3 linked regions of the Homo sapiens genome follow. The protein of the gene in region 1 interacts with the protein of each later gene in a pairwise test. Each region holds a gene or a part of one and is shown in the gene's direction. Other genes may lie near its edges.

What was found.
Region 2: the proteins of RFC3 (region 1) and KHDRBS3 interact in binary tests that used the Homo sapiens proteins (3 or more experiments, as listed by UniProt).
Region 3: the proteins of RFC3 (region 1) and KHDRBS2 interact in binary tests that used the Homo sapiens proteins (3 or more experiments, as listed by UniProt).

What each region holds. Positions count from the first base shown.
Region 1 is NC_000013.11:33,815,867-33,819,614, forward strand, and holds the start of RFC3 (replication factor C subunit 3), read left to right. Parts: upstream 1-2,282; 5' UTR 2,283-2,312; coding exon 2,313-2,399; intron 2,400-3,748. UniProt on the Homo sapiens protein: Subunit of the replication factor C (RFC) complex which acts during elongation of primed DNA templates by DNA polymerases delta and epsilon, and is necessary for ATP-dependent loading of proliferating cell nuclear antigen (PCNA) onto primed DNA.
Region 2 is NC_000008.11:135,455,641-135,459,388, forward strand, and holds the start of KHDRBS3 (KH domain-containing, RNA-binding, signal transduction-associated protein 3), read left to right. Parts: upstream 1-1,815; 5' UTR 1,816-2,226; coding exon 2,227-2,314; exon of another isoform or gene 2,315-2,335; intron 2,336-2,392; exon of another isoform or gene 2,393-2,539; coding exon of another isoform or gene 2,540-2,543; intron 2,544-2,903; exon of another isoform or gene 2,904-3,263; coding exon of another isoform or gene 3,264-3,270; intron 3,271-3,748. UniProt on the Homo sapiens protein: RNA-binding protein that plays a role in the regulation of alternative splicing and influences mRNA splice site selection and exon inclusion. Binds preferentially to the 5'-[AU]UAAA-3' motif in vitro.
Region 3 is NC_000006.12:62,284,702-62,288,449, reverse strand, and holds the start of KHDRBS2 (KH domain-containing, RNA-binding, signal transduction-associated protein 2), read left to right. Parts: upstream 1-2,224; 5' UTR 2,225-2,501; coding exon 2,502-2,592; intron 2,593-3,748. UniProt on the Homo sapiens protein: RNA-binding protein that plays a role in the regulation of alternative splicing and influences mRNA splice site selection and exon inclusion. Binds both poly(A) and poly(U) homopolymers. Phosphorylation by PTK6 inhibits its RNA-binding ability.

The sequences.
Region 1 (3,748 bases):
TTGGAATCTTTTTGCATTGCTCATGGGAATGTAAAGTGGTGCAGCCACTGTGGAAAACGGTATGGCAGTTACTCAAAAAATTAAACTTACAATTACTATATGATTGCCGGGCGTGGTGGCTCGCTACTGTAATCCCAGCACTTTGGGAGGCCGAGGCAGCTGGCTTGCCTGAGCTCAGGAGTTCGAGACCAGCCTGGTCAACATGGTAAAACCCTGTCTCTACTAAAAATACAAAAAATTAGCTGGGCGTGGTGGTGCACAACTGTAACCCTAGCTACATGGGAGGCTGAGGTGGGAGGATCGCTTGAACCCAGGAGGTGGAGGTTGCAGTGAGCCGAGATCGCATCACTGCACTCCAGCCTGGGAGACAGACTGGGACTCCATCTCAAGAAAAAAAAAAAGAGCTAAGATACCTGAGGGCCAGAGTCATTAAACATTAAAGTGATTGCAGCTGTAGTTTACCAACCCCGAGGACTTTACTTCCTCTGTAGCAATTTCTCATATCCTATATATTCAAGAGTCTGGAGTAAAATTGCTAGATAAATACAGGGCCCTGGTTACATTTGAATTTCAGATAAAGGCTGATTTTTTTTCTCATATAAGTATGTCCCTGGCAATATTTATTACAATTTCAAATATTGCCAGGGACATACTTATATGAGAAAAAAAATCATTTGTAATAAATTTTGCCATAGACATATGAAAAAGCTTCTGAAATTCAAATTTAACTGGACTTCCTGGGTCACCACACTATTTCTCCTTCCTCAGAACCCCCAACAATATTGAAGCACATGTCTTCATGTGCTTCAATGGTAGAGACATGTCTTCACGGTAGAGACCATCAACCACTGCTCCTTATTGAAGTTGTCTGTCATGCCTGTGGTCACTCTTGCCAAATTATTGATCATTCTAGCACTTGGTTCTTCTCTTTATTCCTCTCAGTACTTATTTCCATTATCATTCATTATGATTATGATATACACATAGACCACAATTCAGTATCCCTGCTTCTGATTTCCTTTACCTTCTCATTTCAAACACTTCCTCCATTTCAATTCCAAAGGAGAGAAGCATAAAGAAGATGAAGCTTTTTTGCAATATTAAATAGGGTGGTCAGGGAAGCCTCAGTGAGGAGATAATACTTGAGCCAACATCCTGAAGGAAATGAGGGACCCAACTCTGCTGACTGGAGAAACATAGTCCAGGAAGAGGAAACAGTAATTGCAAAGGCCCTGAGGCAGAAGCCTTCCAGGCTTATTATAGAAAGTTTCTCGAGAACAGGGATTAAATCTTATACTTGGTGGTGTGGATAATACCTTACCTGCAGGAGTAATTCATGTAATATGACGATTCATAGAAGAACATGATAAATTATTGATTAATAAATGAGTAAGAGGCACCTTGGTGAAAGGTTATTAAGTATATTTGGAAATCATTTCCTGCCTGTAAGACCTTGCAATCAAATGGCAGGACTTAGGGTTCTTAATAATACATAAAATAAAAGCATAAATTAAATAAGGAATTAATATTATGTACAATGAGTAAAGTGCATTTTGAGAGGCACTATTTGAAGAGAACTTCAAAAGTTGCATATCAACTTCATATGCAGAATATTTTTCTGAGGGGTTCAGATGCTTCTACACATTTTAATTGGAGGGCTTTCAAATATTCTAGACTTAGAATGCATATTAACCTCGTGTCTTCTCCCCTACAGACCACATTTGGGTAGTTTTTCCATGCTCTTGATTCTTTTGTTTCTAATCCAATAAGAATATTGAGGAATAGAGGTAACAAAGGATAGTGAAGATCAGACATTTTCAAGCGATTCATCCAATGAAGCTTTACTGGGTACCTGCCAAGTGAGTGAAACCCTGAGATGTATATATTCTAGTGCCGAGGACAGAGTTCCACACCTAGCAGATATTTAGTAAATTTTTGTTGAATGAATTAAGTGAATGAAAGAATGAATAAATGAAAGGAACGGTCTTCTCTGAGGTATCTGGATGTGACGCCAAAAGGGTCAGAACCACATTTTCAATTCCGCTTGATAATTTCTAGAATATAATAGACGGTGCGAACAAAGAGAAAATAAATAAAGCAGTGAACTTCAGAACTAGAGGGCATCGACGCGGCAGCTGATTTTGTCTGCACACGGCCCCCGTAGCCTTTCCGTCCAAAATCATTTACGCGGCCGCGACCGGTAGTGACGTCACGAGATTTGGAGCTCGCGGGAAAACTTGTCTCTGCGTTGTGGGGAGGACGCGCGCTCGCGCGGGATTTTCAAGCGTAGGCCCCCGGGAACTCGAGCTGCCATGAGCCTCTGGGTGGACAAGTATCGGCCCTGCTCCTTGGGACGGCTGGACTATCACAAGGAGCAGGCGGCCCAGCTGCGGAACCTGGTGAGTCTGCGGGGGCCGGGAGCGTGGGAGAGGGGAGGCCCCCCGGCTCGGGGTTTCGCGCCCCCCTGAGGAGCAGTGCTTCTCCCGCCCGCATTGGAAGGTGATAAGTGCTATGGAGAAAAATAACACAGGGAAGGGGGAAGAGGTGTGGGAGGCTGGCTTGTATTTTTAAACAAGAAAAGCTCCACTGAGAAGTGGCATCTGAGCCGAGACTTGAAGGAAATTGAAAAGTCATAAATACAGAAATCCGAGCAAAGAGTGGAACAGGTAAGAGGGGACAGCAAGTGCAAAATTCCCGGGCAGGGATGTGCACGGCATGTTCTAAGAACCTCAGGAGGCCGGCGTAGCCGATAGTGGTGAACCAGCGGGAAGGGTAATCGGAGATGGGTGTATGTGTTGGGATGGAGTTGGAGTGCAGACCCAGTCAGTCTCAGAATAAGACGAGAAGCCGTTGGAGCATTTTGAGCGGAGATGACACCATGTGATTTACTTTCTAGCTGGCTTAAGATTTCTCGATGTCATTGTCATTTACAAGTAAAGTGTTGTAAATATGTATTTACTCCAAAGATCGTTTCTAATTCTCAAATAAATTGTATTAGGACGTTCCTGAGATTAGTTTTTTTTTTTTTTTTTTTTTTTTTTGAGACGGAGTTTAGCTGTTGTCGCCCAGGCTGGAATGCAATGGCGCGGTCTCGGCTCACTGCAACCTCCGCCTCACGGGTTCAAGCGATTCTCCTGCCTCAGCCTCCCGAGTAGCTGGGATTACAGGCGCCCGCCACCACGCACAGCTAATTTTTGTATTTTTCAGTAGAGACGGGGTTTCACCACGTTGGCCAGGCTGGTCTCGAACTCCTGACCTCAGGTGATCCGCCTGCCTCGGCCTCCCAAAGTGCTGGGATTACAGGCGTGGGCCACCGTGCGTGGCTGAGATTAGAGCTTTGTGAAAGATCCTCTCCCCTCTATCCTGATGCCTCTTTGTCTGTTGTAGTTGATAAAAGTGCCCAATGGCAATATTTTGTGAGAACGAACTGAATCTTCCAGGGAGTAGAGAGTAAAGAAGGATCTTTAGGAGAATAAAGTGTCTGTGGAAGACATTTATCCACTCCTTTTAAGGAACTCAAATTAATATATGATGCTGATGGAAACGTTTTTGCCCAATACCCTGGTTTTCCCTTCCGACCTTTCTTAGATTTACAGATACTATTTAATTAAGTGCGTCTTAAAAATAAGAAATAATAAGAAAAGATTGTACACGTAAAAATCATTAGACTAGTTGATAGTGTTGTGACATTGAAGGTTTTTTTTTGGTCTCTTTATTGATACTGCATGTATACTAATTTAAAATAAAT
Region 2 (3,748 bases), on another chromosome or scaffold:
AGCACCACGACCAGCAGTGAGGAGTCCACAGATGGGTGTCTGCCCAGCATCCCTGGAGTTACAGCTGAAGGGAAGGCGAGGGAGGCTCAGAAGGCCCAGAGGACAGCCTTGCAGCCGGAAAAAACCCAAAGCAAAGATCAGCTCAGCATTTCCGATAGGCAGAGTGCTGTTTTGGGTATTTCATTATGAGTTAACATATTTATTCTCATGAACTTCTTATGAAATAAGTTTGGTTGTCATCTCCACTTGACGGATGAGGACCCTGAGGTGAAGAAACTTGCCCAAGGTCACAGCTAGTGAGCAGCAGATCCATGATTCCAAATCCAGGCTGTTTAACCCCAGAGGCTTTGCTTTTAACTGTGCCATTTTTCTGCTTCTTGCAAGTTGAGACTGAAGAGAGCCATGAAGAAGACTCTTACTGGGGACTCTGAAATGACACCTTAGCCGGGGGAGGAGTGGAGCCTTGAGAGTGAGGGCAGTTGAGTACTCGGGTCTGGGACTTAGAGCTTCCAAGATTTCTACCACCTCCCACTCCCCTCGGGTTTGTAAAGCTGCCTCCATTTGCATTGGGAGTGCGGGGGGGCTGCCTGGGGGACTGTGGCGATTGTCCTCAGGCTATTGGCTGAGAGTGGTATGCCACTGACTTATTCCTCCAAGAGACATTTCCAGTACCCTCCATCCCTGCCCCCTGTACTACACACTGGTGACCTTCCCCCTCAAAAACAAAACTCAAACTCTGTCCCTGATGCTCATGGTCTACTGAAAACAGAATTACAGCTGTCTGTGAATGACCTCTGACCAAGCTGGGGGGACACAGAGAAGGGACTTGTGACTTGCTTTGCCAGGGAGGTCCTGAGAGGCTGTCCAGGGAAGGTGACATTGAGGCCGGGACTTGAGCTGGCTGTTTGAAGGCAGGAAAAATGGCAGGGCAAGGACTGGAGTCCTTCGCCTTCCTGGGGGACGTTTATTCCACATGCCTCGGGAAATCTGAAATGGCCTTGGAGAGCATTTGCTGGGGGTTGGGGGTGGGCGGAAGGGGACAGAGAGCATTGCCACCGACAGGCGGGGCGTCCCAGGGCCTCTCCCCAGGAGCGGATGAGCTCAGACGCGGCTCACTCAGCTGTGTCCAGGCACAGCCGGTTTATGACCTAAGAGAATGACAACCCAGGAGCAAGTCGGGATGACAAAGACGCCCAGAAGGGCACGCGCTTTTATGTAACCGACCTCTGAGCTGGCGGATCTCAGGAGGTTGGCGCTCTGAGCTCAGGCGCGGAGAAAGGACGGCGCCCCTGCCTTACTCTCTTATAAGTACGAGGGGACAGCAACGCGACATAACTTAGAGAAGTCCAGGAAGCTTTAGAGAGCAGGGCGGTCCCGCTGCTATTCCTCAGAGCGCGACTGGGGCGAACTGGGGCGCCCTTCCCAGCTCCAGCTCGGCCCTTGTCCCCTCTTCCCAGGATCACTCGCTGGGTGACCTTGGGCGAGCCACTTGACTTCTCTGAGCCCCAGTTTCCCAGTCCGTGCATCTGAAAGGCTGTAATAGCGTCGTGGGGCTCCCCACTCGGCCCTCAGGGCCAAAGGTGGGCGCCGGACACGCGGGAGGGGCCCTTGGACGCACCCCCTCTCGCAAACGCCCGGTTAGTCCCGGCGGACTCGCAGTGGAGAGCGGCCCCAGGAGGCGGCGGGCGGCGGGGCGGTGGGCGCCAGTGCGCAGGCGCGGCGCGGCAGGGCGGGGCGGCGGGCGCGGGGCGGGGCGGGGCGGAGCCGGGCGGGGCGGGGCCGGCGGCAGGCGCTGGGCGCTCGGCGCGGTGGCTCAGAGTGCGCGGGGCGGCGCGCGGCGTGCAGGTCGCAGCTGTGGCTCGGGTGCTGGCAGGTGCTGGCGGGACTGGCGGGGATCGCCGTGGACTGCCTCAGGGGCGCCGCAGCCCGCTCGGCCCGAGGGCCCGCCTAACCGCGCCGCCCGCGCCCGCTCCTCCTCGGCCCGCGCCCGGAGCGCGGGGGCCGCCGGCGCTGGGTACTCGGCGGCCACCGGGGATCGGGGCTGAGCGGTCGGTTCCCGCCCCCGTGCCGCCGCCGCCGCCTTCCGGCCGACCGCCCGGCTTGGCCGCTGCTGCCGCGTCTGGCCCCCGGGTCCCCGCCGCTGGGGGCGCGGGCGGGGTCGGGGGTTGCCGGGCGCCGCCCCCCGTGCGCCTGGAGTCCACATCCCGGGCCCGGCGGCCGGCGAGCATGGAGGAGAAGTACCTGCCCGAGCTGATGGCGGAGAAGGACTCCCTGGACCCCTCCTTCACGCACGCCCTGCGCCTGGTGAACCAAGGTGAGGCGCCGGCCGTTAACTGCCGGCCGGCGGCGGTTGGGGGCCGGGTGGAAACGCGGGGGCCCAGGGGGCCCCTCCGTGCCCTCTGCTGTCAGCGGACGCGGCGGAGACGGAGGCCCGGGTGGCCCCCGGGGTCGTTTGCACGGGGACCTGGGAGGCTGTGGGACACCTAGGGGAAGACCCTGATGTGAATTTTGGGGACTTGGAAGGAGAAGGCTGGGGCGCATGGGTGAGACTTGAAGGAAATCTTTGGGGACTCGGGCACACCCAGGGGAAACTTCTGGGTGGGGGACAGCGACCATCTGGGGGCTTCGTTGGGAACGAGGTTGAATTATGTCATGGAAGGGGAGCGTGTTGGACTCGGGGAAGTAGGGCGTTTGGTTTGTCTAAGGTACTGGAGAAAAAGCTGGAGGAAAATGGAAGGACTTGAGGGACTCAAATGCAGAAGAGGTGAAGGGAACAGGTGCTTGCATTGTTAGCGAAGTTTGGGGACCTTGGAAGAGGGTTGGGGTCAGACCCCAGCACCTGAGAGGAGAGGAGCTCCGTGGTCCCAGGGGAGGAGCCCAGTTCCCCCTCCCAGCCCTTTGTCTCTCCTGTGTCCAGGCTCCAACAGCCCTGGCGGGGCAGTCAGCCCTCCCAGGGGATGGGCAGCCCATGCCAAGCCTTGCAGGCTGGCCCTTGGAGAAGTCAGTAGGGGAGAAGAGGCCGGCAAAAGAGCACCGTTCCGGAGGGCGTTGGGTTGGGTGACCCTCATTGGTGGCTGGCTTGAGGTTCGGAATAGTGGTGAAGGGAGTCCTTGCCATTTTCACACGACTCCAGCCAGCTCAGGGTGTGAAAGATCCTAGGAAGTACTGCGGGTCAGGGATACAGAGATTTCTGGAGGCACGCCTACCCGGGACAGTGTTCCCCTGGCTTTTTCCTCCTGTGGCTTCCTGAATCATCTGCTGGCATGCACGGTAAATTAAGCCTTCCTTCCTGGGAGCAGTCTCCTACTTTTCCTGGAATATGTGTTTCAGATGAAGATGGGTGTGGGTGCCACTGGTCTGTCTTTTCTCTGGGAAATGGCAGCAACATGATCTGGTCAGATCTGTTACCTTTTGCAGGAATTACTGTGCACTGACAGTCTGTGGTTCCCTAGATGAATCGGATCTGCTGCTCTTAGTGCTCGCCCTGGCTTTTTTATTGTTGGAAGTGAAAGATGAGGCAGACATATTCTATTTGTATATAGATACCTATATTTTAAAACAGTGACCTCCAGTTTTTGCCTGTTTCAACCAGTTCTTCAGAGTAGAGTGTGTGTGTGGTTGACCGATGGTGGAGGAGAGACTCTTTACTGTCTCCAAGAATTTAAGAATATTTGAATTGTTGAACAGAAATAGACTTATGGAGCTCCCTCATTTTATTTTAATTGCAGGCTTATTTTTATTTCTTTAA
Region 3 (3,748 bases), on another chromosome or scaffold:
AAGTTTGAAGCATATTTTCCCTTTATATCCCTGTTGCAGACCAGGTGCAGGATGCATGACCCTTCAACTACTAAACATTCTGCACACAGATAAAATAGCAAGAACTTTCTGTATATATACTCAATTCTAAATAATAGCTCCTTTGAAAGTAACATAAGAATCAGAAAGAGATTAAGAAGCACATCCAGAAAGATACCAATACTTTATGGTCCCCTATTACACTTAGAATAAAATCCAAATAATTTTCATTCATCAAATCTTCAGTGTTTGTACACATCAATCCCCCCTCCCTTATTGATTCCATTCTTTCCCATATTACAGTAGTCACATTGACCTCAGTCAATTCCAAAAGACAGCACAGTTCTTTCCACCACAGGGCTTTTTCAGGGGCAAGTTCCCCTGCTTGGAATGTCTTTCTTTGCACATTGTACTCACTTGGTTCATTCTTTTCCATGAGTTTTCACCGTAAATATCAGCTGCTTATCGAGATTGTATGTTTACCCTAGTCAAAAATAAAGAAACTAATGTCTTCCCTTGTATTCTCTTTCTTAACTCCTTGGTTCATTCTTGACCTTTATTGCAGTCAACAATTACCATTCCTCTTGTATACTTGGTTTTATTTATCTTCTCCCATTAGAAAACATCTTTGTGATGACAAGGAATGAATGTGTATGTATCTTATTCACCAATGTTTCTCCAATTTTAAGTACTGTCCCTAGACTCTTTTCAGTATCCAATAAACATTTGTTGAATGCACACATGCACAAATAAATTAAATATATAACACACAGAAAGGTAGGTTGAAGCAGTATATTCTGGATATAAATGGTGCTAATATAGAATTGAATTTTAATCTCAACTTCAGCATTAACTAGACATGAGACGATTTCTCTGTTTTGCCTCAGTTTCCATATTTATACAAACAGAGAAAGTAATACTTGGCTGGCATTTTTCAGAGTGCTTCTGTGAGGACGTATTGAAATAATCAATGTGAGGCACGTTACGTTATTTAAACATTATACAAATAAAAGTTAATCTCCCGAATTTATCTAAAAATTAAAAGGAAAATATTTAAATACAGTAAGATAAGTTGGAAAAATTTCAGCACATTTTATTTGTAGCAAAGTTGGCCCTCATTCTTCCACACCAAAAATAATGGGGGAGAGAAGAATCAGGAAATGACTACTTATGAAACGAGAACCCAAGACTTGGGGAAAGATTGTTTCCTAGCGATTGAGGCATGCAAGTTACATTTTATAGCCGCATTGGTAAAAGAAGGATGGGCTTTGCCTCCACGCTTGGTGATATCATGAGGGTTTAACTTTCCTTTAAATAGAGGTGGGATAATACAAAGTAGCTCAGCAACAGTACCTGGTGAAAGAGACTGGCACATCTAAAACTAGGAGAAAGGGGAAAATTAGAGCAAACGTGGTTACCTATTTTCTAGTCTCTTCTTTCTTCTACATGTCTTCCCAATTCTTTCACAAACTGTGACTAATGAATCATATTGTTTTTGGTTTTTAAATTCAGCCCCTCCCAACCTCCCTTCCACAGATAGGGTCTGGGGAAAGGAGGCACGGATAGGTTACCAGAACTAATTCAATATCCTAATGATTGTACACCTCAATCATGTCTCTGCACAATATTTCTTCGAGCCGCTTTATTTGTTTATCAATGAACATCCTACTGCGTCCCTGAGATGTAGGTCATCGGAAATACCAGCTGCCGATCACATGCAGTCTTCATTGTATTTCCAGACCCAGTGCGCTGCTGATTCCTGCACAACTGGAGTGCGCCTGAGCTGTGTGAGGGAAAGGAGACACCTGTGCCTTAGGGACGCAGGTGAAGTCCCATCTACCTTCCTGAGACTTTCCCTGGCGCTTTTCCACCCTCTCGGGTGGCTCACTTCTCATCTCCATCTCCCCTGTCCACTTGTACTCAGACCTCTCTCTTTAACCTGCGCTTTTCCCGCGCTCTCTCTCCTCTGCGCCTTAGCTGAAGACACAGAGAACTCCACAAAACTGGGCATGCCTAATAGCCAGGGAAGGCTTGGGCGCAAGAAGAAAGCGTTTGCATCTTCCGAGCTCCCTTCCCCTCTGCAGCTGCCTCCTGCCAGTCAGGCCACCCGACTTGCGCTACCGCCCAATGAGAGCCCGCGGCCTTCTGCCAGCGCCCCGCCTCTCCTGGCACCACCACCAATGAGTGGTTGGCGGAGGTGGGCCGCGTCCTGTTCCCGCCTCTCCAGTTAAGGCCGCTGGTGTGAGCCGGGGCTCTGCGCGAGCGAGGGACGACGGAAGGGACGGGCAGGTGTGGGCGCGGGGCCACGCAGCCCGACGGCGGGAGTCGCAGGTGCTGGGTGCATGGGCCAGTGAGGACGCACAGAGATCCCTCGCCGCGCGGAGGAGGAGCAGCGCGGGAGCCAGGCGCTGCCCCAAGACCCTGCCTGCGTCCGAGCGAGCGGAACCTCGCGCTTCGCCCGGGGACAATCCGAAGTCCGCGCTATGGAAGAGGAGAAATATTTGCCTGAGCTGATGGCAGAGAAAGATAGCCTGGATCCATCTTTTGTGCATGCGTCGCGCCTTTTGGCAGAAGGTAGGACTTGCCCCCACAGATGGGCACAAACCGCCGGCTGCCTATCTCACCCGCGGCTTGATTAGGGGAGTGAAGTTGGGGAGGGACTCCTCTCCCCGCCTTCGCAGAAACTGTCCCCCTGAAGATGCTCGCCTTAGAGCTCGGGCGGACAGACCCCGTTCTTGGGGCGGACAGCAGTGCTCCTTCTCCACGTCTTAATTTGGAGAAGACCAAAGCTACGGAGATCTAATGGCAGTGGCGATGTGACCTGTTAGGATCATTGATAGAGAAACCATAAAGTGTATGTAACGCGGTCTACAGGGACATTTTCACTTCGCAGAGGGAAGGGAAAGCAGTTTGGAAGTAAATGGTGATCAATGTAGTGTTCTAAGAGCTTCGTAGCTACAGATCGGTATTTTTATTTTTATTTTTTGCTGCATTTAGGAAGTGATTTTTGATACCCTTTAATCAAAGTCTATCCTATGGAAAGTGTTAGAATTAACCTATGCATTAAACTATGCATGTTCTTATATGTATGTTAATGTGGTAAGTAAAGGCTAAAGTGCTTATACATTTATTTGAAGTGTGATGATTGGGTACTCTGTGAGATATTGGTCCCTGGGAACACTCTATAATTGATCAACTGTTTTACCAAGTGTGCATTTTCTTTTGTGTACCTGTAATGTTAAAGGGGATTTCATTCCTAGAGGAACACATATGTCTTGTTTTTTGCATTGCTTTGAAAGGTTTTTTTTTGAAAAAAGACACATGAACTTTATTAACCGAATTACTCCATTTATGTTATAATAATGCCATCTAAATACTAAAGACACCTATGGTATCTGTAGTTACTTACCCATGCCTTTTTAAAACATCTGCAGATTTTTTTTAGATGAATGCTTCATTAATAATGAATTGCTTCATCATCAAATTGGTTACAATGCAGTTTTGTAGCTAAGTTTGTTATGGACTTACATACAGCAAAAAACTAAAACGGATAACTTCCTCTACCCAAGCTCCTCAGTATTAAAAGATTTTTTTGAGACTTAGTTGTACCAAGGAAGAATAAATTCTGCTCCTCAATATATGATTTAAATAGGCATTAGCTATATTTTTTAATTTATGAATTGTTATTTATATTAACAATGAAGTGTAAGGTATTTTTCTATGTTTAAAT